3 separate regions of the Homo sapiens genome follow, and all the other regions are linked to region 1. The links come from fine-mapping of genetic effects on gene expression. A gene starts in region 1. Each other region holds a variant in brackets. All regions are shown on one strand. Distances are between the middles of the regions. Region 1 holds the start of UTRN (utrophin). Region 2 overlaps UTRN (utrophin). Region 3 overlaps UTRN (utrophin).

Region 1 (8,182 bases):
ATTCTTGAGTGCATTAAGTTGTAAGGAACTCAGCCTTTGTACTATTTATTTTCTAAAAGTTTCATGTGCTATTATTTTTTGTTTCTTCAATTCTATTACAAAAATTTATATGATAAAATTTTATCAACTCGCACACATACTAGACGTTTGACTGAAGAATTTACCAACAATACTCAGCAAAAATCCAGTATCTATTACACACAAGCTCCAGATTTATACTTTTTTTACCTGAAAAATATAAGAAAGGCTAAATTCCCTAAACTTTCCTCCTCTCTTAAATGCTTGTATGTGGGGCTTTAATTATAGTCAATACCAAAGGTAAAGCTAAAGGAGTGTCTTGTTTTTTTATACATTGTGTATTTTCCCCTGTTTCTACTGTTTAAAGAAAAACTGCATTTATATAGTCTTGCACAAAGTTTAGTAGCAAATGTTTTCCTTTTGGTTCTTATATTAGGATGCAGTTCCCTGTATGGGAATAATATTTATGTGAATCATGTCTATATACACTATACACACATATACATATATCTTTATATATGAATCTATATATACACTACTCATATCATAATTTTCTCCTTTGTCAAAGGCTTTCTATCCTGCAGTGACACTAACTCCATTTTCCTTAATTTTCACAGTTCTGTGGTGACAGCAGGGCAATTCTGACTTTGGGTTACCAGTAGACCCAGGGCCACATTCCTATTATTCTCTCCAGATGTTCTACAGCGATCTGATCTTTGGGATGAGCAGACAAAACCCCACTGAGCATCCTTGTTGCAGGCCCATTACCTTAGAGGCCTGTCTCCACCGTGCCTCACCTAGATTCTCTGGATATAAAGGAAGATCACACTGTGCTTTATGGAAATATAGCCCTCTGTGGTCAAGATCGCCCACCAAATGTGGTTTCCCTACCAAATAAAGAAAGTGTTGGGGGACAGGACCAGCACAGGACCAGCTTGAGATCTCTTGATCGTTCCATCAACAAGAATTCCGCCCTCCCTCCCTCCCTTCCTCTTCCTTCCCTCCCTCCCTCCTTTATTTCTCTCTTTCTCTCTTTCTTTCTTTCTGACAGTCTTGCTCTGTCACCCAGGCTGGAGTGTAGTAGCGCCATCTTGGCTCACTGCAACGTCTGCCCCGGGGTTTAAGCGATTCTCATGCCTCAGCCTCCTGAGTAGCTGGGATTATAGGCATGTGCCACCACGCCCAGCTAATTTTTGTATTTTTAGTAGAGACAGAGTTTCTCCATGTTGGCCAGGCTGATCTCGAACTCCTGACCTCAGATGATCCACCTGTCTCGACCTCCCAAAGTGCTGGGATCACAGGTGTGAGCCACTGCACCCAGTCAACAAGAATTTCTTTAGCCTCTTTTGCTCATTACCTACAAAGAGCATCAGTCTCTGCCTGGAGAGAAGGGCTAGAAACAGATAGGGCACAGGTCCCCAGGTAACTGGCTGTAAGCCACTATGGCTGATATGCGGGGCAGGTCACTCCTGCACAGAAGGTGGCTTGTTGGCCTCCTGTTCCATCTCTTACAGGCGTTGAGGAAGCTCGACTAAACATCTCCTCACAGCTTACAATCCCAGAAATCATAGGACCCTAAACGTGCGTTTTTCAAAATTTTTGAGCTAAAATGATGTATTACTTTGTAAATTGTGAAAAGTGTCACAAATATTAATTTAAGTGACAACATCATCAAACACTCCAATGTGGCCTTATTATCTATTTTGAAGGAGAAAATCTGAGTTTCATCAACTCAACCAGGATACAGTGAGTGATAAGCAACTTTTGGTGTCTGCAAAATGATCAGTTAAAAAAAACCTGGGGGCTGGGCACGGTGGCTCATGCCTGTAATCCCAGCACTTTGGGAGGCCCCGTCTCTACTAAAAATACAAAAAATTAGCAGGGCGTGGTGGTGGGCGCCTGTAGTCCCAGCTACTAGGGAGGCTGAGGCAGGAGAATGGCGTGAACCCAGGAGGCGGAGCTTGCAGTGAGCGAGATCGCGCCACTGCACTGCAGCCTGGGCAACTGAGAGAGACACTGTCAAAAAAAAAAAAAAAAGAAAGAAAGAAAGAAAGAAAAAATCCTGGAGTCCCTCTATGTGACCATACTCAGCTAGCACTTGATCTGTTCTTTTCTTATGGCATTTATCTCCCGGATCTTGTATATACTTACTTGTTTACATGTCTTATCTCACCTACTACATTCCAAGTTCTTTAAGGGTAAGATCACTATCAGATTTATCTTTGCTTTACCCACAGAACCAGCAAACCTGACAGCCCTAAACTGATGCTTGTTAAATGAATGAATGAAGTGAATGAATAAAATCATACCCATTTCAAGTTAATCCTTTGGATTTTATTTGGCTTATACGTAGAAAATCATCAAAAGGAAGGAAACTGTCCTAGAAACCTTACAAGGAAGAGTCTCTTTTGGGAATCTCCTACCTGCCCCCTCCCTGGAGCACTTAGGGATGGATGGGGGAAACTTTCACTATAACAAAAGGCGAGTAAACTCTTTCTGAAAATTAGTTTAAGGCCCCTAGTGGTTTAATCTTTACTGCCGCGTAAATTAACTCAAATATTAAGCCAGCAATAAACCGGCGCTCCAGTATCAACCATCCTTTTCTCTGTTAATACGAACTAGGAACTCAGGTTGCTGTTTTCTTTCCCCTCCCACGTGTGCTGATCGTGTAAAAGAATCACAGGAACACACGAGCAATGAAATGTGTAAATAAGAAAAATGCACACACATCACGAGCTCATTTCTTCCCAGATATTTTTTGGTCAACCTCTCAAGCTTGGAACAGGCTCTATAACAGATGTGCGTTTGTGTGTGCATATTGGAAAACAGAAAAATAAGGTCAGCGCAAACACTACTTGTAATACAAACTAATGTAAGAGAAAACTTCTTTTTCAATATTAACAACGACACTAGAGAAATAATGTAAAATAAATATACGGTTGGAACTAGGGGTAAAAAAAAAATCAGCAACGTCAGCAAACTGAGATGGGGTGAGTTGGAAGGCAGATTGGAATTTATCTCTTAAAAAAATATCACCCTAACTAGAGACCTGTTTTGCCTAAGGGGACGTGACTCACATTTTCGGATAATCTGAATAAGGGGAATTGTGTCTGCTCGAGGCATCCATTCTGGTTCGGTCTCCGGACTCCCGGCTCCCGGCACGCACGGTTCACTCTGGAGCGCGCGCCCCAGGCCAGCCAAGCGCCGAGCCGGGCTGCTGCGGGCTGGGAGGGCGCGCAGGGCCGGCGCTGATTGACGGGGCGCGCAGTCAGGTGACTTGGGGCGCCAAGTTCCCGACGCGGTGGCCGCGGTGACCGCCGAGGCCCGGCAGACGCTGACCCGGGAACGTAGTGGGGCTGATCTTCCGGAACAAAGTTGCTGGGCCGGCGGCGGCGGGGCGAGAGCGCCGAGGGGGAGCCGGAGCGCTGCAGAGGCGCGGGCCGGAGGGCTGGCGCTGATCTGCACCCTTCTCATCTGGAGAGCGGACCCCTGGCTGCCCGGAGGCGAGCCCCTTCCCGGGGGGTGGGGGCGGCAACGCGCGACCCAGCGGTCCTGCGCCCCACCCTCCCTCCTCCGCCTCCAGCGCTCGGCTCCAACAAAGGGGCAGGCCCGCAGCGGGGAGGAGGAGGAGGAGCCGCCGAAGGAGCGAGCCTCTCTCGCGCACAAAGTTGTGGAGTCGTTTTTCCTCGGAGCAGGGAAGCGGGCAGCAGCAGCCGGCCGCGGGCTTTCTCCCGCCGAGGGGCGAGGAGGAGCCTCTGGCTCCAGAAGCCGATTGGGGAATCACGGGGAGCGGCGCCCCCCTTCTTTTGGGTCATTTCTGCAAACGGAAAACTCTGTAGCGTTTGGCAAAGTTGGTGCCTGCGCGCCCCTTCCAGGTTTGCGCTTTGACTGTTTTGTTTTTGGCGGAACTACCAGGCAGGAAGATTGCACAAGTAAGGGGCGTTTTCAGTCGGGTGTCAATTTCTCTTTCTTTCTTTCTTTTTTTAAAATTTCGGTTCGTGTCTGCTTCTCCAAGCTTTATTTTTTTTTTTAAATACATCGCACCACCAAACTAACACTCGCACACACCCCCGCGGTTACTCCGTGTCAAACTCCTAGAGGAGCCCTTGGCCAGCTCGGGGTGCGGCGGTGGCGACCGGCAGGCGAGGAGGCCCGCGGGCAGCAGGTAAGCCCATGCATTATTGAAGCCTCGGGCTGGTAATGTGACTACAGCCCCCGAGGGAATGGGGCGGGGGCCGGGAGGAGGATGGCTCTTTCTGTGGTTCTTCCGCCTGGGATCGGCGTCCCGAGCTGCTTCCCAAGTCCCAGAGTCGAAGATGGGAGTAACTTTTGCGTGCCCTTTCCTCGGGGCCTCAGTTTAGCTCCCCGCGGTGCGAGAGAGAATGCCGGAGGCGTGGAGAGCTCGGGCGTGGAGGTCCTTGGGATCCGTACTAGTTGTGAACGATCCAAACTTATCTGACCAGCTCTGTGCTGCCTCCCTGCTCCCCTAATCTTCCTCCCCGCCGGGGTGACAGAGTCGCCCTCCGTGCATCGCGCGGTGCAGGGCGCTGGGCCAGTGATTTGCAAGAGGGGACGTGGCCTCTTAGGAGAGTCTGTCACAGACACCCGGGCCCGGGGAAGGCGGGGCTCCGGCGGTGTCCACAGGAGAGGGTGGGCAGAGGGTGGCTGTGTGGTCGGCGGCCAGCGGAGCGCTTCCCAGCCAGCCGCCCGGCGGGGAACGTGCTTGACCTCTGGGTGGTTGCTGCTCCCAAGGGTGGGGCTCCGGAGAGTGTGGCGCGATCGCCAAGCTCCCTGGCAGCGGCCCTGGAGAGACTGAGGGGACAGGAGGAGGGGGGCGCCCCATTGGTGTGTAGTCCCGCGCAGTCGCCGGCTCTCCTTTTCCGGACTCTGGGGATCTCTTGCTGCAACTGACAAGGTAATTCATGCCCCGCTTTGGCCCGGGGTCCGAGGCTGTGGTTGCTCAAGGCCACTTAAAAACCAACAAAGCACCAATTGAAGGCTGTGCAACTTTCAGATGGCAGGTTGTTCAAAGGATTTTTTCCTCCAAGCCTCAGATTATGAAAGGGACTCATTCCAGTGCGTTTTTCGAGGAGGAGGGAGAAAACGTTGCCCGACCTCCGAGAGAGCTGTGGGACCAGCACTTTATTTTACAAGGAACTGCAGAGCTCGGGTTCTAACTCCACGGCCCCGCTCTCTGAGGTGTTCAGGACAGGGCCTCCTCTTTCCCAGCCTTCAGGTCAGCCGGATCACCAGGGCCTTGCGGGCCAGTTCCCCCTGCCGCGGTTGGGAGGGTCAGTGCAGCGGTCGCCGCGGCCAGAGCGCGCGGAGCTCGGGGGAGGCCGGATTCCCTAGGTCTGAGCCGACCCTCCCGGCCGCCCGGCCGGGCGGCAGCGACCGCATCCATTCCTTTGTAAGTTGCACCGGCCTCAGGAAGTCGATCTGGGCCCTCCCGGTTCGTTGGCGGTGGGCGTGGGAGACGCAGCCTGCGGATAGCTCAGGGTCAGGGGAGAGGTGGAGGAATGCGAAGCTTGTGGGTAGTTCTGCGGTGACGGACAGGGTTGGCGTGGAACCATTCCCCGCCCCTTTTACCAGCCTTTATGGGACCGATGAGACAACTCTTTAACTCTCCTTTGGGTGTTTACCTAAAATTTATTGGCTCTGTAAACAGTATTAATCACAGTAGTATTAACCTTCCCTGGAGCGCTTCCGAGTGTAAATGGCAGTTCTTGGCACTCACCGTTTTCTTTTACTGTGTTTCAAGCAGAGCAGCAAACTCTTGTCCGCTTGGCTTCCTTTTCTACTATCTCAATCGTTCCTAGGTTTTGGTTCCTATAGTAAATTAATGAATAGTGTTTGCATTACACAGCATTTCCATCATAATGCACACTGTTGGATATATATGTGCTATATACATAAAATATAGTACAAAATAAAAATTATATACATATATTCATTGTATAATTCCTAAAATCTTAAAAAATTGAAACATTAGTTTTGTCTTTAAGGCTGTCACCTTATGTTTATTTTTTAAACACCTTATGTTTATTTCATACACTCTTGCTTGGTGGTCCATATGACAGCCGGAAGCGTTCTGAAGGGAGAGTTAGTGAATATCGACTTGACTGGATTGGTTTCAGTAAGAACATCTGGCTTTTACAGAATATCATTTGAGGGAAGGGAAATCTAGGGCAGAGGTAACAATAAATTGCATTTGTATAGGGCTTGAAGCTTCTAAAGCAACATCTCATTCATTGATTCTCAGTTTCTCACCTAGCCTTCTGTGAAGATGGTGTTCCCTCCATTTTATAGGTGTGGAAGACGGAGGGTCACACTGGGATGCATTGTTCGTGGTGAAACTTTGATTCTGTCTCCTGAGAACCAAAGATTCTGCATTTGGCAATTAGAAGGAGTCATCCTTTGCCTTAAGTGTACTCAAATTCCTCTGGCCATTAATGGCAAGTAACCTCAGTGGCTATCACTATTTAAATAGCCTTCTGTTATTCTTCTTTCTCCCCATTTTCCTCTGTACTCTGATCACCTTTTCTGCTGTATCTTTGCAACCTGTAAGGGATTTTCATTATCAAGAAGAGAAAAATTTGAAAAATCACCTTGAGGAGAGTGGCAAGTGAAACATTATAGTGAAGAAGTGTTACTGATAATGGGCAAATGGAATAAAGTAGTGTGTAAACAGTTGACTTTTCTCTTTTATGGGTGAATAAAGGCTTTGGGTAGCATAGAAGTGGAGATCTTGGCTAAGACCAATAGTGAAGAAAAGCATTAGACTTACTGCTCCAAAGTGATACACTGTAGTTCTTTCCAGGAAAGAGAATTTTTCCCTGGGCAAACTTAATTTTCCATGATAAACTTTTATAGACATTCTTCTGAACAAAGTTTTTGATTCTTGAATATAATAAAATACACTTAAGAATTTAGCAAATCCTTTATAGTTATGTACTTGAATGAAAGAATGTAATCATATAATAATCCATAAATTTTTAGCAGTAGTAGAGCCTATAAAAAATGAAAAAAGTTTTTTAGACTCTCATAAAATCTGTCAGATTGATGATCCAATCCTTTATATCCAACTCTCTCTCTCTCTCTTTTTTTTTTTTTTTTTTTTGAGATGGAGTCTCACCCACTCGGTCGTCAAGGCTGGAGTGCAGTGGCAGCGATCTTGGCCCACTGCAACCTTTACCTCCTGAGTTCAATCAATTCCCCTGCCTCAGCCTCCTGAGTAGCTGGGATTACAGGTGTTTGCCACCATGCCTGGCTAATTTTTATATTTTTAGTAGAGACAGGGTTTCGCCATGTTGGCCAGGCTGGTCTCAAACTCTTGACCTCAAGTGTTAGCCAGGTTGGTCTTGAACTCTGGACCTCAAGTGATCTGCCTGCCTCAGCCTCCCAAAGAGCTGGGATTACAGGCATGAGCCACCATGCTGGGCCCAACTCTCTTTTTGTCATCTCCGCTTATATAACTCAGAGGCATTTCAAGCTCTGCAAATCCAAATCACATTGATGATTCCTTTCTCCCAGCCTGCTATCCTCAGTGTTGCCCAGCTCAATGACTCACACTTCACCTAATTGCCTAAGCCAAAATTGGGGAGTCATTTTGCACATTTTGCACATTGGATATGAATCTCTCATATCCAATCAATTCCCAAATCCTATTGACTTTCTTTGATATCTAAATATCCCACATATTCACCCATTTCTTTCTATCTACTCTTGTTTAGACCACACTTGTTTCCTGCATATAATATTACAATAGAAAGAATAGCACAATAAACACCCAGATGTCCTTTTTATTTTATTTTATTTTATTATTTAAAATTTTTATTTACATGGAGTAGAGACAAGGTCTCACCATGTTGCCTAGGCTGATCTCAAACTTCTGGGCTCAAGTAATCCTCTCGCTTAAGCTTCCCAAAGTACTGGGATTACAGGTGTGAGCCACCTCGCCTAGACCCAGATGCCCTTTAACAAGTTTTCCCACTTACTTTATTTTTTTTGAGATGGAATTTTGCCCTTGTCACCCAGGCTGGAGAGTAATAGCACAATTTCGGCTCACTGTAACCACCGCCTCCTGGATTCAAGTGATTCTCCTGCCTCAGCCTCCCAAGTAGCTGGGATTACAGGCACCTGCCACCACACCCAGCTAATTTTT
Region 2 (8,182 bases), 340 kb after region 1:
ACTGAGATAAATTGGTGCCATGTTCAGTGAGAAGCTGGCAAATTTATGAAGGAATGTGCTAATGCAAATACTTATGAATTGATTTGCTCTACATATTTTCCCTAGGGCCCCTTAGTCCTCTATTACTTATTAGAATCTTTACCTTCTGTACCACAGAAGTAAACCTAAAGCACAGCCTTACTAAGATTGTTTTTGCTTTCATGGGGCCAGTTGAATATATTTCATCTTCCTTTTATGTGACAAAAATAATTGAGAAACATCAAATGATGTTTAATTGTTTTGAAAACATAAACAAAACTGGAGATTTTATAAAGCCTTGTTCTAAGCTTGAAAAGAAGGAAAAAAAATCAGTTTCTGGCTGAAAAGTTTCTGTTGACACTGGACCGATCAAACAGTTTTCTTTCAGACAATATTTCTATAGCTGTATCACAGAAATTAGGGGCTGACAGTGACCAGTAGTTTATTTTCATTGCCTCATACTTTCAAAGAAAGCAAATATGGACTTGTATAGTTATTAATTAAAAATATGTTAAGCAGTGATGGGTGTTTATTTAAAGAATTCATGCAAATCTTGATTTACATTTTTAAACTAGTCTATTATCTCTCACCTTTTCAGTTTGTTTACCATGGTACTGCAAAAATTATTTCAACAAACATCTGAAAAACTCTCCTTATCACAGGGTCAGTAATAAATAGTTTGTTATCCCAAGCATGGCTTTCAGAGACGTCTGCAGGTTTTCTGGGCACAAAGTATCACTCCAATCTCCTTTAAATCAGTTTCCCTCTCGCAACTGGTCAAGGGCCAGACTAGAGAAGAACCCAAATGACATTCCGACCTCAAACGTGAATCCGCTTTCCTCCCCGCCTTTCTGCATTTCTCCAATTCTACTCCACCTTCATGAGTTAGAAATAATTCCTCTTTTAAGGCAGAAAAATCGGTAGATTTGGTTACAGTGGGTTTGCACATGTCCACAGCTGCCTACAGGCCACTCAGTTTCCCCCAACACTGAGATTGCTGCCTCTGTAGCAAGTTTGTGTTGTGGCTTTTCTTTTTTCTTTTGAGACGGAGTCTCGCTCTGTCGCCCAGGCTAGAGATGCAGTGGCACAATTTCGGCTCGCTGCAACCTCTGCCTCCCAGGTTCAAGCAATTCTCCTGTCTCAGCCTCCCGAGTAGCTGGGACTACAGGCAAGCGCCACCACGCCCACCTAATTTTTGTACTTTTAGTAGAGATGGCGTTTCACCGTGTTGGCCAGAATGGTCTCGATCTCTTGACCTTGTGATCCACCTGGTGTTGTGGCTTTTCTTATACACAAATCACAGTCTGCGTTTGTGTTACCTGCATGTCTCTTTTAGGCATTTCAGTTTGCAGCCTCTGGTTTATATCTTATGTCTTTGTAGATCATTGAGAAATAAGATTTGATATATACAAACAAAACACTGACCTAGTTTTAGGCCCCATTCAGTAACCTTTTGCCCTACCTGTGTGTGTGTGTGCACTACGCGGCAGATGGGGGGTTAGGGGGCTGGGGAGGAGCATGGCACAGTGGGAGGATGAATGGGATAGGAGGGTGGGGTGGGGTAGGGTTGGGGGTAGAGTTGTCTCCAAGAGGAAGATGTTGGGTACAGTTGTGCTTTGCACAAGGGCATTACATCTAAATGGTGTCATTCCCATTGTAAAGGCCAAAGCATTGTCAAAGGGAGTAATAGCTGTTACATTCATTTATCGGTTTACTTTCTGTTTCTTCATGTGATTCAGATAAGAGGCGTTTTTAATAATATTGATAACCCTTATCTTTCTGTCTTTGAATTCATTGCTCTATTTTGTAACTCTGTTAATATGATCTTTTTAAAAACTATGGTGAAATATACAAAATATGGCATTTTAACCATTTTAAGTGTACAAATCAGTGGCATTAGAAACATTTACAGTGGTGCAACTATCACCATTAGCCATCTCTGGAATTTTTTTATTATCTCAAACGGAAACTCTGTTCCCATTAAACAGTAATTCCCCACTTCCTCCTTCCCTCCAATCCCTGGTAATGGCCACTCTACTTTCTGTACCTGAGAATTTGACTACTCTTACCTTATACAAGTGGAATTATACAATATTTGTCTTTTTGTGACTGGCTTATTTCATTAGCATAATGTCCTGAAGGTTCATCCAGGTTGTAGCACATTTCTGCATTTCCTTCTGTGTTTTTTTTTTTTTTTTTTTTTGAGGTGGAGTCTCGCTCTGTCACCCAGGCTAGAGTGCAGTGGCATGATCTCAGCTTACTGCAACGTCCGTCTCCCGGGTTCAAGCGATTCTCCTGCCTCAGCCTCCTGAGTAGCTGGGATTATGGGTGTACAACACCACTCCCGGCTAATTTTTTGTAGTTTTAGTAGAGACGGGGTTTCACCATGTCGGTCAGGCTGGTCTCGAACTCCTGACCTCGTGATCCACCCGCCTCGGCCTCCCAAAGTGCTGGGATTACAGGCGTGAGTCACCTTGCCTGGCCAATTTTCTTCTTTTTTAAGGCTAATTATTATGCATATATCACATTTTGCTTATCTCTTTATCATCTATGGGTACTTGGGTTTTGACTTCTTGGCTATTGTGAATAATGCTGCTATGAACATTGGTGTACAAGTATCCGTTTTAGTCTCTGCTTTCATTTCTTTGGGGTCTATATAAACATGACGTTTTAATCAGATATTTTATTCACCTCTCAAAGCTCTTGTTCCAGTGTTCACTTCCTTTGAAAAATCTGTATGAATATAGTATTCTTTTATTATTGTACTCCTGAGAGGAGGGTGTTAGCCCCTTTTTTTTGAAATGTGTGCAGAACTCCAGTGCTTAAAACTTCCACCAGAAACCATTGGTTTCTATCCCACAAGAATTCCACTGAAATGCTTCTCTTTGGAAGCCCTACTGAGCTGTTTAAACTGTGTTTCTTTAGAACTTCCAACATTTTCAGCTTTTCCTTGACTTTTTCTCTAATAGACATGCTTTAGTTAAAGCTCCTTCATTCTGAGTTGTTCTGTGAACTAGATTTCATGGTTTACTAACTCATATCCTAAATAGAATCATCCAAAAGAACGCATAGAAACATTCTGTTGATTCCATTTTGGTTGGTATGTGACTATTAAGGGTTCTTACAGTATGGTGAATCTCAGATTCCTCAGGGGGCTCCCTGAGGCTGAGGATGATAGATCTGACGATTCACAACTCTCATCTCTTTGGGATACATTGGTCATTGTTACAGAGTTAAACTGCCCGGGCAGATAGGAGGTTCTGGAGTTGAGGGCTGGTTTAACTGATCAGGGCATTTAACCTGTGTGGCATTGGACCTGTAAAATATGACAAATCTTTGGGCTGGAGGAATAAGGTTCTGCAACTGTTAAATTTGATTAATGATTACCCTGTGTATGGAAAATTGATTATTACATTGGTAGCTCTCTTTATGAAATTTTCTTTTATTCTGAGCATGGCCAATAGCAGTACTTATCCACATTCTTGAAAATCTTTCCCTTTGACTGTGACATACAAATCTTCATTGCTTACCTTGAATCTTAATATCATGCGTGAGCAAAGTGTTAGCATATTTGCTTATTTGCTCTTACTTATTTTTCAGAAGGTGCTACATAGTTTAAAAAAAAAAAGCAAAAAGGATGTGTAGTAAAAAATCTAGTGTACTGCGTCCTAAATGACGCATCATGACCATAGACTGTCACCGCCCTTGCAAGAGGCAGCCACCGATGCCAGTTTCTTGTGTGCTCTTCCAGAGATACTTGCTGTATTGTCTTTTATTTTAAAGTGTGGCATACATACAGGAAAGTATGTAAAACATACATGGACAGCATGAAGAATCATAATTAAAACAATCACTATTCCAAGTTATTGCTGATCCTTAGAAGCTGTCTGTGCCTCCTTGATCAGATCCCCCTTCTTCTCTCAAAAAGTAACCTCTATTCTGAGTCTTGTGATTCCATGTCCAGCAAGGAAGCAGGGATGTTGCATCCTAAATGCCTAAGTGTTTAAGTCTAGAGACTAATTCCTTTAAGCATTGTTGGATTGTTCCTGGTGCTTTTGAACTCCAATGTAGATGTTGTCATGTAATCACTGTGCTCCTCATCTGAGCTGAAACTTTGCTTCTGCTTTAGCCATGGCATGATTTAGATATGTGAAAGATAATTCCATCTCCTTTGTAATTTAATTTATTTGTGTCATTTTAGGCATATTGCATACCTGCTAATGTAGAATGGAGATCTAGAATATGGAAGACAGTTTAAAACATTTTAAAGCATTCAAATGTGGCATTCTGGCCGGGCGTAGTGGCTCACGCCTGTAATCCCAGCACTTTGGGAGGCTGAAGCAGGCGGATCATGAGGTCAGGAGATTGAGACCATCCTGGCTAACATGGTGAAACCCCATCTCTACTAAAAATACAAAAAAAAATTAGCCAGGCGTGGTGGTGGGTGCCTGTAGTCCCAGCTACTCGGGAGGCTGAGGCAGGAGAATGGCATGAACCCAGGAGGCGGAGCTTGCAGTGAGCCGAGATCTCGCCACTGCACTCCAGCCTGGGTGACAGAGCGAGACTCCATCTCAAAAAATAAATAAAAAATGAAGTGGCATTCTGATTGGGAGTTACTAAGCATATATATTATAGGAAGGATTAACACTCAAAAGGAGAGCTTAG[T/G]CTTGTTAATTTTCATGCTTTGCTGAGGGCCTGTGTATTAGCCTGTTCTCACCCTGCTAATAAAGACATACCTGACACTGGGTGATTTATAAAGGAAAGAGGTTTAATTAACTCACAGTTCCACATGGCTGGGGAGGCCTCACAATCGTGGTGGAAGGCAAAGGAGGAGCAAAGTCACGTCTTGCATGGCGGTGGGCCAGAGAGTGTGTGAGGGGAACTCCCCTTCATAAAACCATCAGATCTCGTGAGACTTATTCACTATTATGAGAGCAGCATGGGAAAAACCTTTCCCCCTGATTCAGTTACCTCCCACAATACGTGGGGATTATTACAATTCAAGGTGAGATTTGGATGGGGACACAGAGCCAAACCATATCATCCTGATACAAAACAGGTCATTAATAAATATTTATTGAATAGAATTGAGCTGGAGAGTTTGTTATATGCATATTTAAGTTACTCTGCATACCATTAATATGTTTCCTCGGTTTGTAGTCCTGAAGATTAGGCTTGAGTTCAGTATTTATCTGCTTATGTGTCCTGTGCTGCAACTGTCACCCTCCTTGTCCCTCATTCAGCCCTGCTCTTTCACAATAACCACCCCAAGAAGACTTTTCAGATTTTTTTTTCATCTGCATGTAAAAAAAAGAAGAAGAAAGAAGATACTTTTATTATTTTGGTTTTGGTTCTTCTCTCTTCCCTGCTTTGCCTTCCCTTCATACATGCAGTGGTATTAGCGGTCATGTCCCCTGACCTTGGTTGAGGCAAAGCAGAGGGTGTCATATCAGTTGCAGTGGAAAGATCCTTCTCTGTCCTTGTCTGTAGCTGAACCTGCTAAGTGATATTCCCTTCTAGTATGAGGATGGAGTACAAGTTTTTGAGGTTGCATTGCTGAAGGTAAAACCAAAAGAGAGAGAGAGAGAAAGAGAGAGTGAGTGTGTGTGTGTGAGAGAGAGAGGTGTGTGTGTGTGTGTGTGTGTGTGTGTGTGTGTAACTATTCTTTTGAAGATGACTTGGAACTATTCCTAAGTAACCTCCTGTCTGGCATTCACTAATTTCACCTGGCCAACTCCAGCAATGCTGATCTTAGGATATCTTATTGTATAGCTTATATTCCAAATATTGGAGGAAAGAGAGGGAGTTTGGAAAGAAGTTTTAGTTTAGAGAGCTCTTAAAGTACTCTTGGCTCATCATTCTTTAAATTCCAAAAATGACTAATTTGTGGGGATACATAATTAAGGAAGAAAAGGTTTTGTGAGGGAAAGGAGTAGCAGGGAGTGCTGAGAGCTTGGCGTATGTATTGGAAAATTGTGGTAACTTAACAGGTAATCAAGGATGTTGAGAGAGGTGCTTGTCATCATTTCAAAAGAGCGTAGAATATTTTATTTCATTTTGTCTACTGTGGATCGGTTCTCCTCTCATTTACTTCTTTTCACATTTCATATTTGGGAGGGCTTTGGGCTCTATCTTCTATTTCCTTCTATTAAAAAAAGTTTTATAAGTTATTCCACTTGGCATTCGGAACACAATAATGTCATACTTCACTGAGGCATACTAATGCTCTGGAAAGAAAGAAAAAGAAGGAAAATTAATTTAGAGGGAATGGAGGCTAAATTTTCCATGGTGAAGAAATTCTGACCTTTTCTGAGTTATCGTAAAAGACTGACATTGCTACCCTTTGGATGTTAAGAAAAAGTCTTTCAGATACCTTGGCTTGTAAGGGACCTGGGAAGCGCCAGGGTCCATCAAAAATGTAAAGACATTTATTAGAACATGCATATCCGAAAGCTTTCTGAATTCTGTGGGGACCATCTAGCTTTTACATGATCTTGAGGGAACCAAAGTTGTACTGAGAAAACCCAGTTTCCTCTTAATTCCATCCTATGTGAAAACAACTTAAGTCTCAACTGCACTAAGTTATGAAAATGGATCCTCTTTTTTTAACATTTGGTTTTTGGTTATTCATATTGTCTATATTCTGTTCTATAATTGTATCCAAGTGTTAAAATATATTTTATAAATATACTGACACTGAAAAAGAAATCAAAAGCTGAGAAACGTTTGTGAATATGGCTGGAGAGTCTCAGTAAGATGGGGGACATCTCCTCAAATTGAAGATCTGGGAAGTAAGTAATAGAAACTTACAGACAGATTGAGGTGCAGTTTTTTTTCTACTTTTTTTTCCTGAAAATTTCAGAAATATGAGAAGTGAAATAATAGCAAACATGACTCAGACCTTTATAAATTGTCTTTCTTGACAGCAGAGATGTACAATTTTGTAAAATATTGTCCTCAGTCTTGAACTGCAGAAACTCCTTTCTCTGATACCTGCGGTCTTATTTAATTTTTACATCTTAACAGCAAGAGCATACCCGTGATTTGTTTTCACAAATGTTAGAAATACTGTGTAAGAATAGACTTATTTTTATATTGTAAACTTTTACTTTTTTTTTTTTTTTGAGACTGAGTTTTGCTCTTGTTGCCTAGGCTGGAGTGCAATGGCAAGATCTTGGCTCACTGCAACCTCCGCCTCCCGGGTTCAAGCGATTCTCCTGCCTCATTCTCTCAAGTAGCTGGGATTATAGGCATGCACCACCATGCCTGGCTAATTTTGTATTTTTAGTAGAGACAGGGTTTCTCCATGTTGGTCAGGCTGGTCTTGAACTCTCAACCTCAGGTGATCTGCCCGCTTTGGCCTCCCAAAGTGCTGGGATTACAGGCATGAGCCACCATGCCTGGCCCAACTTTTACCTTTTTAAAGTATGTTTTTAAACAACCAATAATATTTGGCATAATTTAGTATTTTGCCAGTGCTTCATTGCTTATGTGCAATGAGGCATTTAACAAAATAAATTGGACATATATATTTATAATTATTTTACCTATTCCGTCAGATAGTACATTTCTTAAGGAGTAAGGAAACTTGAAATATAACTCACTACTTCTCCTTTTTTTTTTTTTTTTTCCTGAGACGGAGTCTTGCTCTGTCACCCAGGCTGAAGTGCAATGGCGCGATCTCGGCGCACTGCAAGCTCCGCCTCCCGGGTTCACGCCATTCTCCTGCCTCAGCCTCCTGAGTAGCTGGGACTACAGGCACCTGCAACCACGCCCGGCTAATATTTTGTATTTTTTTTAGTAAAGACGGCGTTTCACCGTTTTAGCCAGAATGATCTCGATCTCCTGACGTCGTGATCCGCCCGCCTTGGCCTCCCAAAGTGCTGGGATTACAGGCGTGAGCCACCGCGCCCGGCCTGCTTCTCCATTTTGTTCACAAAATATTTTTTCCTCAGAAGTGTGGCATTGAATGATGTATTGTTTTGTAGTGAGTACATTATCTCAGTGAACACACAATTTCTTTCAGATAGTCACCAGAGTAGTCATCAAAAGGAAAAGCAATCTAAGTACCATTTAATGGGCTGCACTACACTAATATTCTATTTGATGAATTAACTGCATGTTTTTAGTTATCTGTTAGACTAGTTTTCATTCTTTTCCTTCC
Region 3 (8,182 bases), 64 kb after region 1:
TACAAAAATTAGTCGGGCGTGGTGGCACGTGCCTGTAATCCCAGCTACTTGGGAGGCTGAGGCAGGAGAATCACTTGAACCTGGGAGGTGGAGGTTGCAGTGAGCCAAGATCACACCATTGCACTCCAGCCTGGGTGAAAGAGCAAAACTCTGTCTCAAAAAAAAAAAAAATAAAATAAAAAAGCAGGCTTTTAAATGAGTAGCTACAGTGTTAAATATATTTAAATGCTGTGCTGGTTGAGTTCTGGTTCATTTAGATAACATTCTTTCCTGCCCTATGACCAATCAAAAGGCTTTAGGAAAATAGCATTTTTAAAATTAAAATGTATTTCAGTGCATGTTATTTTAATAAAAATAGAAAACCAATGTGTACATGATTTCCAATTTCACAAGGGCCTAGATTCTCCTCTCATCAGTTGCTATTGAACTGATTTTTTTGTGTGTGTCCATAGTGTAGGCTCTTTAGTCATCTTGTTAGAAATAAGGACATTAAATTTAATGTTAAAAATAATATTTTCAGCCAGGCACAATGGCTCATGCTTGTAATCCCAGCACTTTGGGAGCCCGAGGCGGGCAGATCACCTGAGGTCAGGAGTTCAGGCCAGGAGCCTGGCCAATGTGGTGAAACATCGTCTCTACTAAAAATACAAAAATTAGCTGGGTGTGGTGGTGGGTGCCTGAAATCCCAGCTACTTGGGAGGCTGAGGCAAGAGAATCGCTTGAACCCGGGAGGCGGGGGTTGCAGTGAGCTGAGATTGCGCCACTGCACTTCAGCCCGGGCATCAGGGCGAGACTCTGTTTAAAAAAAAAATAGATCTCTATCTCTATCACTATCTCTCTGTCTATCTATGTATCATCTATCTATCTATCTATCTATCTATCTATCATCTATCTATCTATCGATCTCTATCTTTATCCAGCTGTATCATCATTTTCACTAGATGCTAACAATAATATAACTGAGATAAACCAAAGTTTCAAAACAAGCTTGAAAATGTGAAATGAATAATTTGGAGGCGGGACTGGCCATTTAGGCATCTATGAAGGCCCAGATGACTCATGTCTGGAAATTGCCACTGCTCAGGAAACCACTCCTGGGAGCCCTGCTCGTTTTGCCATCCTTCCTGCTTTCTTGCCTGCTGACAGGACTCTATGTCAGCTGTTTCCTTTTTAGATGGAAGGGTTAAAAGATTCACTACTTGGGTCCCCCATTAGAATCACCAACATGCTTGTGCCCCACAGTCAGAGATCGTGACTTGATTGGACTGAGGCCCTGCTCTGTAGCTTGTCAAAAGCCAGCCAAGGGTGTCCAATGTGGAGGGTACAGGGGAATGTATTCGTCCCCCACTAGACTGAAAGCTCCATGGGAGGGAGTAGAGGCAGCTTTGTTACTGCTGCCTCCTAGCACCTGAATGTGTGCCTGATGTGCAGAAGAGGCTCAGTAGCTGCTTGTGGAATGAATGAATGAATTAGTTCCTTTGAGTAACAGGAAGTTGGAAGAAGATTGGACAGAGGCTTAGTTATGGTCTTTGCTGATGTAGGAGAGTGTGCTATGTTAGGCTGAACAGTGGCTGTCATCTTGGAAGACACTCCAGGAAAAGGTCACAGGGGAACAGGTGGCTGATCTGGGGGAATGCTGAACAGACCTCTCAGAAGAGACAAGGCTCCAGGGCAGTGGTGTCCTTATGAGGCAAGGCAGGTTGAGAACTTTGGGAAAGAGAATTTCATCAGGGGCTGAGTGTGTGTGTGTGAATGTGGATGTGAGGCCAGATGGGGACACTCCTGGGAGAATCTCCTGAACTGTGGCTTATTCTTTGTTTTTTTTTTTTGTTTTTTTTTTTGAGACTAAGTCTCGCTGTGTTGCCCAGCCTGGAGTGCAGTGACACAGTCTTAGCTCACTGTAGCCTTGACCTCCCAGGCTCAAGTGATCCTCCCACCTCAGTCTCCTGAGTAGCTGGGACTATAGGTATGTGCTCCCATACCTGGCTAATTTTTAATAGTTTTTCTGTAGAGATGGGATCTCACTATGTTGCCCAGGCTGGTCTTGAACTCCTGAGCTCGAGTGATCCTCCCTCTTGGCCTCCCAAAATGCTGGGATTACAGGCCTGAGCCACCATGCCCAGCCGTGACTCACTCTTAAAGGAGCTCAAGTCTTTTGTGTTGGAACTCCAGGAGGTTGACGACCACACTCATCTATTCAGTCAGCATTTGCTAGGTACCTAGCACACGCCCAGCTCTGGGGAGGTATGGGGATATAAAAATGAAGGTGATTTGATTCTTCCCCCGTGGAGGTTAGGACCTGGAAAGGATGGTGTGTGAAGTGAATGCTAGGTTTGCTGGTGGCTGAAAGGAAGGAACGTTGTCATCTTTGTCATATGTTAGGGATTGCCAGACCCACCAGTTGACTATATCCAAATAAAGGAACACAGAATTTGGAGTGATCACAGGGCAGTGAGATTTGTCTGGGAAGATATCTTAGGACTCGTGAATTTTTTGCAGATCTTAATAATTATAGAGAAAATGAGTAGGTGGTTAGGAAGACCAGGTAACTATAACTTACAGAGGTGAGAGAATGAGAATTGTTAAGTTGGGAGAAAAAGAGTAGAAAGAGCGACATGTGAAAGAAAAGAATCGGCCGGTGCGGTGGCTCATGCCTGTAATCCCAGCACTTTGGGAGGCCGAGGCGGGCAGATCACCTGAAGTCGGGAGTTCAAGACCAGCCTGACCAACATGGAGAAACCCTGTCTCTATTAAAAATACAAAATGAGCCGGGCCTAGTGGCGCATGCCTGTAAACCCAGCTACTAGGGAGGCTGAGGCAGGAGAATTGCTTGAACCTAGGAGGCAGAGGTTGTGGTGAGCAGAGGTTGCGCCATTGCACTCTAGCCTGGGCAACAAGAGCGAAACTCCATCTCAAAAAAAAACAAAAACAAAAGAAAAGAATCTTGGGTGGAGAAAATGAGAAATGGGATTAACATGGTACTGAGCAGTTCTTTTTTTTTTGTTTTGAGACGGAGTCTCGCTCTGTCGCCCAGGCTGGAGCGCGTGATGGGATCTCGGCTCACTGCAAGCTCCTCCTCCCGGGTTCACGCCATTCTCCTGCCTCAGCCTTCCGAGTAGCTGGGACTACAGGCGCCCGCCATCACGCCCGGCTAATTTTTTGTATTTTTAGTAGAGACGGGGTTTCCCCGTGTTAGCCAGGATGGTCTGGATCTCCTGACCTCGTGATCCGCCCGCCTCAGCCTCCCAAAGTGCTGGGATTACAGGCATGAGCCACGGCGCCTGGCCCTGAGCAGTTCTTTAAGGGATGAGACTTGGCCCTCAAGATCTGGGTTTCCATTACCCCTGCCATCGTCAGGGTAAGTCACTGAACCTCTGAGAAGGGGACTCCCAACCAGGAGGATCACAGGATCTCCCAACCAGGGAGGATGCCCCGGGAGAGTGTGGTCAGGATTCATGATGTTACACATTTTAAAGTTCTTTGCAAGCTATAGTAATAGTTCCAGGTAAATAAATGGAATAATAAATTCTGTAAAAATTATAAAAACCTAGTCTGTTGATAATGGGCTCTTTTAGGTAGAGTCTAGGGTAGGAAATCAAACATTATATTCATCATGGTACTTGAAATATATTTAAGCTGAAGCTGTGCACTCCATCATGTTTTTGATATATTTTTCCTTGGCATTACTTGAAAGGCATGCTCATGAAACTGGATTTGGATCTGTTTCATGTTTTCACTTGCGTTCTCTGACC[C/G]CTACTTAGAGGGCACCAGGTGCTTCCTATTCTAACCGTTTGCAAATTCAAGACTTGGTTGGAGGGCCATTCAGGGGACTGGTGTGGGGTTAGATAGGATCTGGACACAGCGACTCCCTCGCTCCTGCTCCAGTATTTTGACCTTAATTTGAACAGTTCAATGAACTGGCAACTGAAGTCGTTTTTTCCCACTGAACTAGACCTTTCATTGTTTTGCAGAGGAAGATGACTCATAGCCAGGTTCTACCATTGTGCTAAAGTGAAATTTTAGTCTAGGACTAAAGGAACACAGGCCAAACTTTCTGTCTGAGCTGCAGAGTATTGAAACTTAGATTGTGAGCTGGGCAGGAATTCCTGTGGCCCTCTGTGTGGAGTTGCTCTCAAGGAAAAGGAGCATTTAAATACGTTTTTGACTCCAAATTTAATTTTTAGTAATATAGTTCAAATGTCCTTTAAAATATCTTAAGTAATCAGACTGTTTTCTAAAAAAAAAAAAAATGTAATGCAAAATGAAAATTCTACAAAGTAGAAAACTGTCATTTCCTTCCTCTCTCCAAAACCATTGTTAATAGTTTCGTTTCTTCTGCTACCCTTGTTTTCTATGAATGTAAAAATGTATGCCTCTATGGGTGAGCATGGCTTTTCTTTTTTGAACCAAAATTGAAACCATCCTGATTTAGTGGCATCCCACTTAAAACATTATTAAAAACTACCTGTGTACATGTATCTTCGCTTACTTGGGCAATTGCTGGGGCAAATATGCTTTTACTGTTAAATCGTCATCTACAACAGATGACATGTAGAGAGATGAAATGTAGTCTATAGTTGTTTGAACTTGCATTTCTTTTTTTGTGGAACTGAACTTCTCTGCATATGTTTATTGGCTCTTTGGACAAATTCGTCAGTGATTTGGCTTTTCATGCATTGCTCATTTTCTTTTGTTGCTTGGATCCCTGACTTTTATACTCTTAATGATTCCAAGGGAAATTCCTACAAAATGGCAGATTTGGGAGGACTTATTTGAATTTCTTTTGAGTTCTAAAATGGTTAACTGCTACCTTAAAAGATAGATATTATTTTCAGATATCTAGGACAGAGGTTTGAGTCTTTGGACTTAGATTCTATAGTATTTTCTTTCTTTTTTTGGCTGATATGGAAGACGTCATCATCCCAAACTGTGCTGAGACTAGTAGTTATTTAGATACACTATTTTATTACATTTTCGTATACTGATAAATTATTTCCATATGGATGGTAAGTCCCAGATTTATTTATGAAAAAAACCATTTTTTATATATTTTATGGAACATGGAGTTAGCAGAAAGATGCTGTGGAGTTAGGCTTAAAATTAAGCCCTAACTATTCTGCCTCCTGTTTTGGGGCTGTTGTCAGTCTTTAAAGGTACATCTTTGTAAAATTTTTTGAACATAACTTGACAGATTGCAAGAAGGATTATAATAAATGGTGTCTGTTTGTGTTAGAGTATTTCAAGTCAGTACAGGAAAAAATACATTTAGATGCTAAGTGAAGATAAGACATTAGTTTAAATGAGGCCCCGTATGCACCATCATATTGAAAATTTACCAGTGTGTCCTCGTCCTTCAATTTAGATTCGTTAGTGATTTTTCACATCAAAGCATTGAAGCTGTAATTCTATGTTGGGTTCATTTAACCACAGATCCAGTAAATGGCAGGAAATAGAGAGCTATACAGGACAGCAAATGGCCTGCAGTTGTGTGGAGGATATCTTTGTGGCAAGATGCCCCAGATGTTTTGCTGTTTTCAAAGTTTGCTATCATTTGTTCAGAAAGGTTTTCATTGCTTGCAAGCAAGCAGGCAAGCAAAGGAAAAGGGCACGCAGCCGCCTCCCCTATGATTCTGTGCTCTTTGCCTTTGATGCCTTATATAAAAAGCTTTATTTAGTCTGCAGAGAGGTTATTTCTCCAAATAGAGGTGAACTGTCATAGTAGTCTGGAAACGTGATAGATTTCAGTTGAATGCCGCTGATCCAAATACTCTGAAAGGCTGGGCTGTGTGGCACTTGTAAGATAGGCACCTTGCACAGATTCTTCCAGGTCACTTGCACATATCGCCAGTAGAAATACCTCATCAGATAGCGATCCACTTGGCACTCTGAGAAGCAACTCCTATCACACCGACACTGCTACTTTTCTCCTGGCTCAGCCAGTCTCTTGCTGGGAACCTGCTGCCAGAGTTAGTCACTTGGCTTCTGCCCTGGCCTATTTTCTTGTTGACTTCTGGATTCTGTGCCTTTAGCTTCTCCTTGGACTCATTGGCCATTACTCTCTTTCTGGTGTTAGTAGCTCCTAGACTGTGTTTGACAGAAGAAATTTATTCCCCTAGCAAATTCACTTTCTACTGAGGTAACTCTAACCCACCCATGCAATCTAGCATCTGCCAATACTCTGAGACCCACTGATTGTTAATCAGTATTTATTATCTAACTCTGAGTAACGAGTGTTATAGCAGGAAAAGTAGAATCTTTTTTGTGTGTGTACGAATGTGGTTTAAGGGACTTTTGGGGATAGAGGAGAAATAAACACCTTGAAATGAATTATTATATTTTACCTTTGCCCATGTGAATTCTTTAAAATAATTATTAAATTCTCACTTTGCTTATATGCATTAAAAATTTCATAGTGATGGTATTTAAAGAGGGAGGTTATGGACATTTTGCAAGTTGGTTGAGGCAATAGTTCTCATTTCCCTTTTCATGTCCCACGGGACATGTCATATCTGTCTGCCTCCCTCCTATGCATTTCTCCTGCTGTTGCAAGGAGAATCTTATGTTTTATGATGAAAATTTATTTGGTGACTAAGTGAAGTGTGCACTATTCTTTTAAAAAGTCCTTGAGATTGCATTCTGTATATTTGCTGAATTTGTTACTAGGCCTTACGCTGCAACATTTCTGAGTAATCAAATCTAAATAAAAATAAAAGGTCGTTCAAGGTAAATCTATGTCTTGATTACTGAAATAAAGTATTGACATTTATTTCCCATAATTTGGGAAGTTATTCAGTAAATAATATTTGCCTGGTGTTTTATAATGAATCATTTTTATCATATTGGGTTTGTGTTAGGAAGACTGTCAGCATTGATTTTCCAGTAGTTTTCTAAATTTTCTCATCTATTTATGTTTCTTCTTCTTCTTTTTCTTTTTTTCTTTGAGACAGGGTCTTGCTCTGTCAACCAAGCTAGAGTGTAATGGCATGAGCTAGGTTCACTGTAGCCTCGATCTCCGGGGGTCAAGCAGTCCTCCCACCTCAGCCTCCTGAGTAGCTGGGATTACAGGCATGTGCCACCACGCTCAGCTCATTTTTCGGATTTTTTTTTTATTTGGGTAAGAGTCTCGCTCTGTTGCCCAGGCTGGAGTGCAGTGGTGCGATCTCAGCTCACTGCAACCTCCCCTTCCCAGGTTCAAGCGATTCCCTTACCTCAGCCTCCCGAGTAGCTGGGACTACAGGCGCATGCTACCATGCCTGGCTAATTTTTTGTATTTTTAGTAGAGATGGGGTTTCACCGTGTTAGCCAGGAACGTCTTGATCTCCTGACCTTGTGGTCCACCTGCCTCTGCCTCCCAAAGTGCTGGGATTTTAGGCGTGAACCAACGTGCCCGGCCCTTCTGATTTTTTTTTTTTTTTTTAAATAGAAACAAGGTCTCACTATTCCCAGGTTAGGGTCTTGAACTTCTGGGCCCAAGTAATCCTTCTGCCTTGGCCTCCCAAAGTGCTGGGATAACAGGCGTGAGCCACTGTGCCTGGCTATTTATGTTTCCTAATTACTGCAGTGCTCATGTTTCTGTCAGCTTCAACTATGCCACACATGACTAGGAATTAGAAATAAGAAAACAGTAACCAGCCTGGCCAACATGGCAAAACCCTGTCTCTACTAAAAATACAAAAATTAGCTGGGTGTGGTGGTGAGTGCCTGTAATCTCAACTACTTGGGAGGCTGAGGGACGAGAATCGCTTGAACCTGGGAGTCGGAGGTTGCAATGAGCTGAGATACTGCCATTAAACTCCAGCCTGGGCAACAGAGCGAGACTGTCTAAAACAAACAAACAAACACACACAAAAACAAAAACAAAAAAACCAAGGAGCCAAAAATAAATGACTCAGTGAACATTTATTGAGCAACTGTGGTTTGCTGGGTGCTGCGGTCGTTGTTGTGAAGGTGCTGGGATGTTTTAAAGTTGGTTTTAAACTTAAGGATTCTACTTACTGGCAGCCTAGAACCACTGCATATGCCTTGCAGAGATGATGATGGACACTTGTGTCCTCACCTGTGCAGTGCAGGCACATCAGTGAAGAGCCTTAGATTCTCATTTTGCAACTGTTTTCACACTTGGGTATCGGTTTCTAGATCTAAAGCAGTAAATGAGAAAGGCAGTGGGTGTGAATGCTGCTAT

The links. PIP is the estimated chance that this variant, and not a neighbour inherited with it, causes the effect.
Region 2: its variant is fine-mapped to the expression of UTRN in whole blood (TOPMed, PIP above 0.99).
Region 3: its variant is fine-mapped to the expression of UTRN in whole blood (TOPMed, PIP above 0.99).

Annotation. Positions count from the first base shown.
Region 1 is chr6:144,281,639-144,289,820 of GRCh38, forward strand. UTRN (utrophin) reads left to right here and starts at 3,697. Exons shown (of 75, transcript NM_007124.3): 1 at 3,697-4,183. It overlaps LOC124901418, which reads left to right and starts at 4,860. Exons shown (of 1, transcript XM_047419641.1): 1 at 4,860-6,316. The coding sequence starts at 5,033. The coding sequence ends at 5,641. RefSeq lists an enhancer at 3,067-3,136 and silencers at 3,267-3,326, 3,537-3,636.
Region 2 is chr6:144,625,597-144,633,778 of GRCh38, forward strand. The region is part of intron 51 of UTRN (utrophin); the gene reads left to right. Among named protein-coding and RNA genes, the nearest start is that of SNORA98, 220 kb to the left of the region's middle. The variant T/G (reference allele first, on the strand shown) is at 4,684.
Region 3 is chr6:144,346,021-144,354,202 of GRCh38, forward strand. All of the region lies in intron 2 of UTRN (utrophin), which reads left to right. Among named protein-coding and RNA genes, the nearest start is that of SNORA98, 56 kb to the right of the region's middle. RefSeq lists enhancers at 1-15, 3,159-3,268. The variant C/G (reference allele first, on the strand shown) is at 3,753.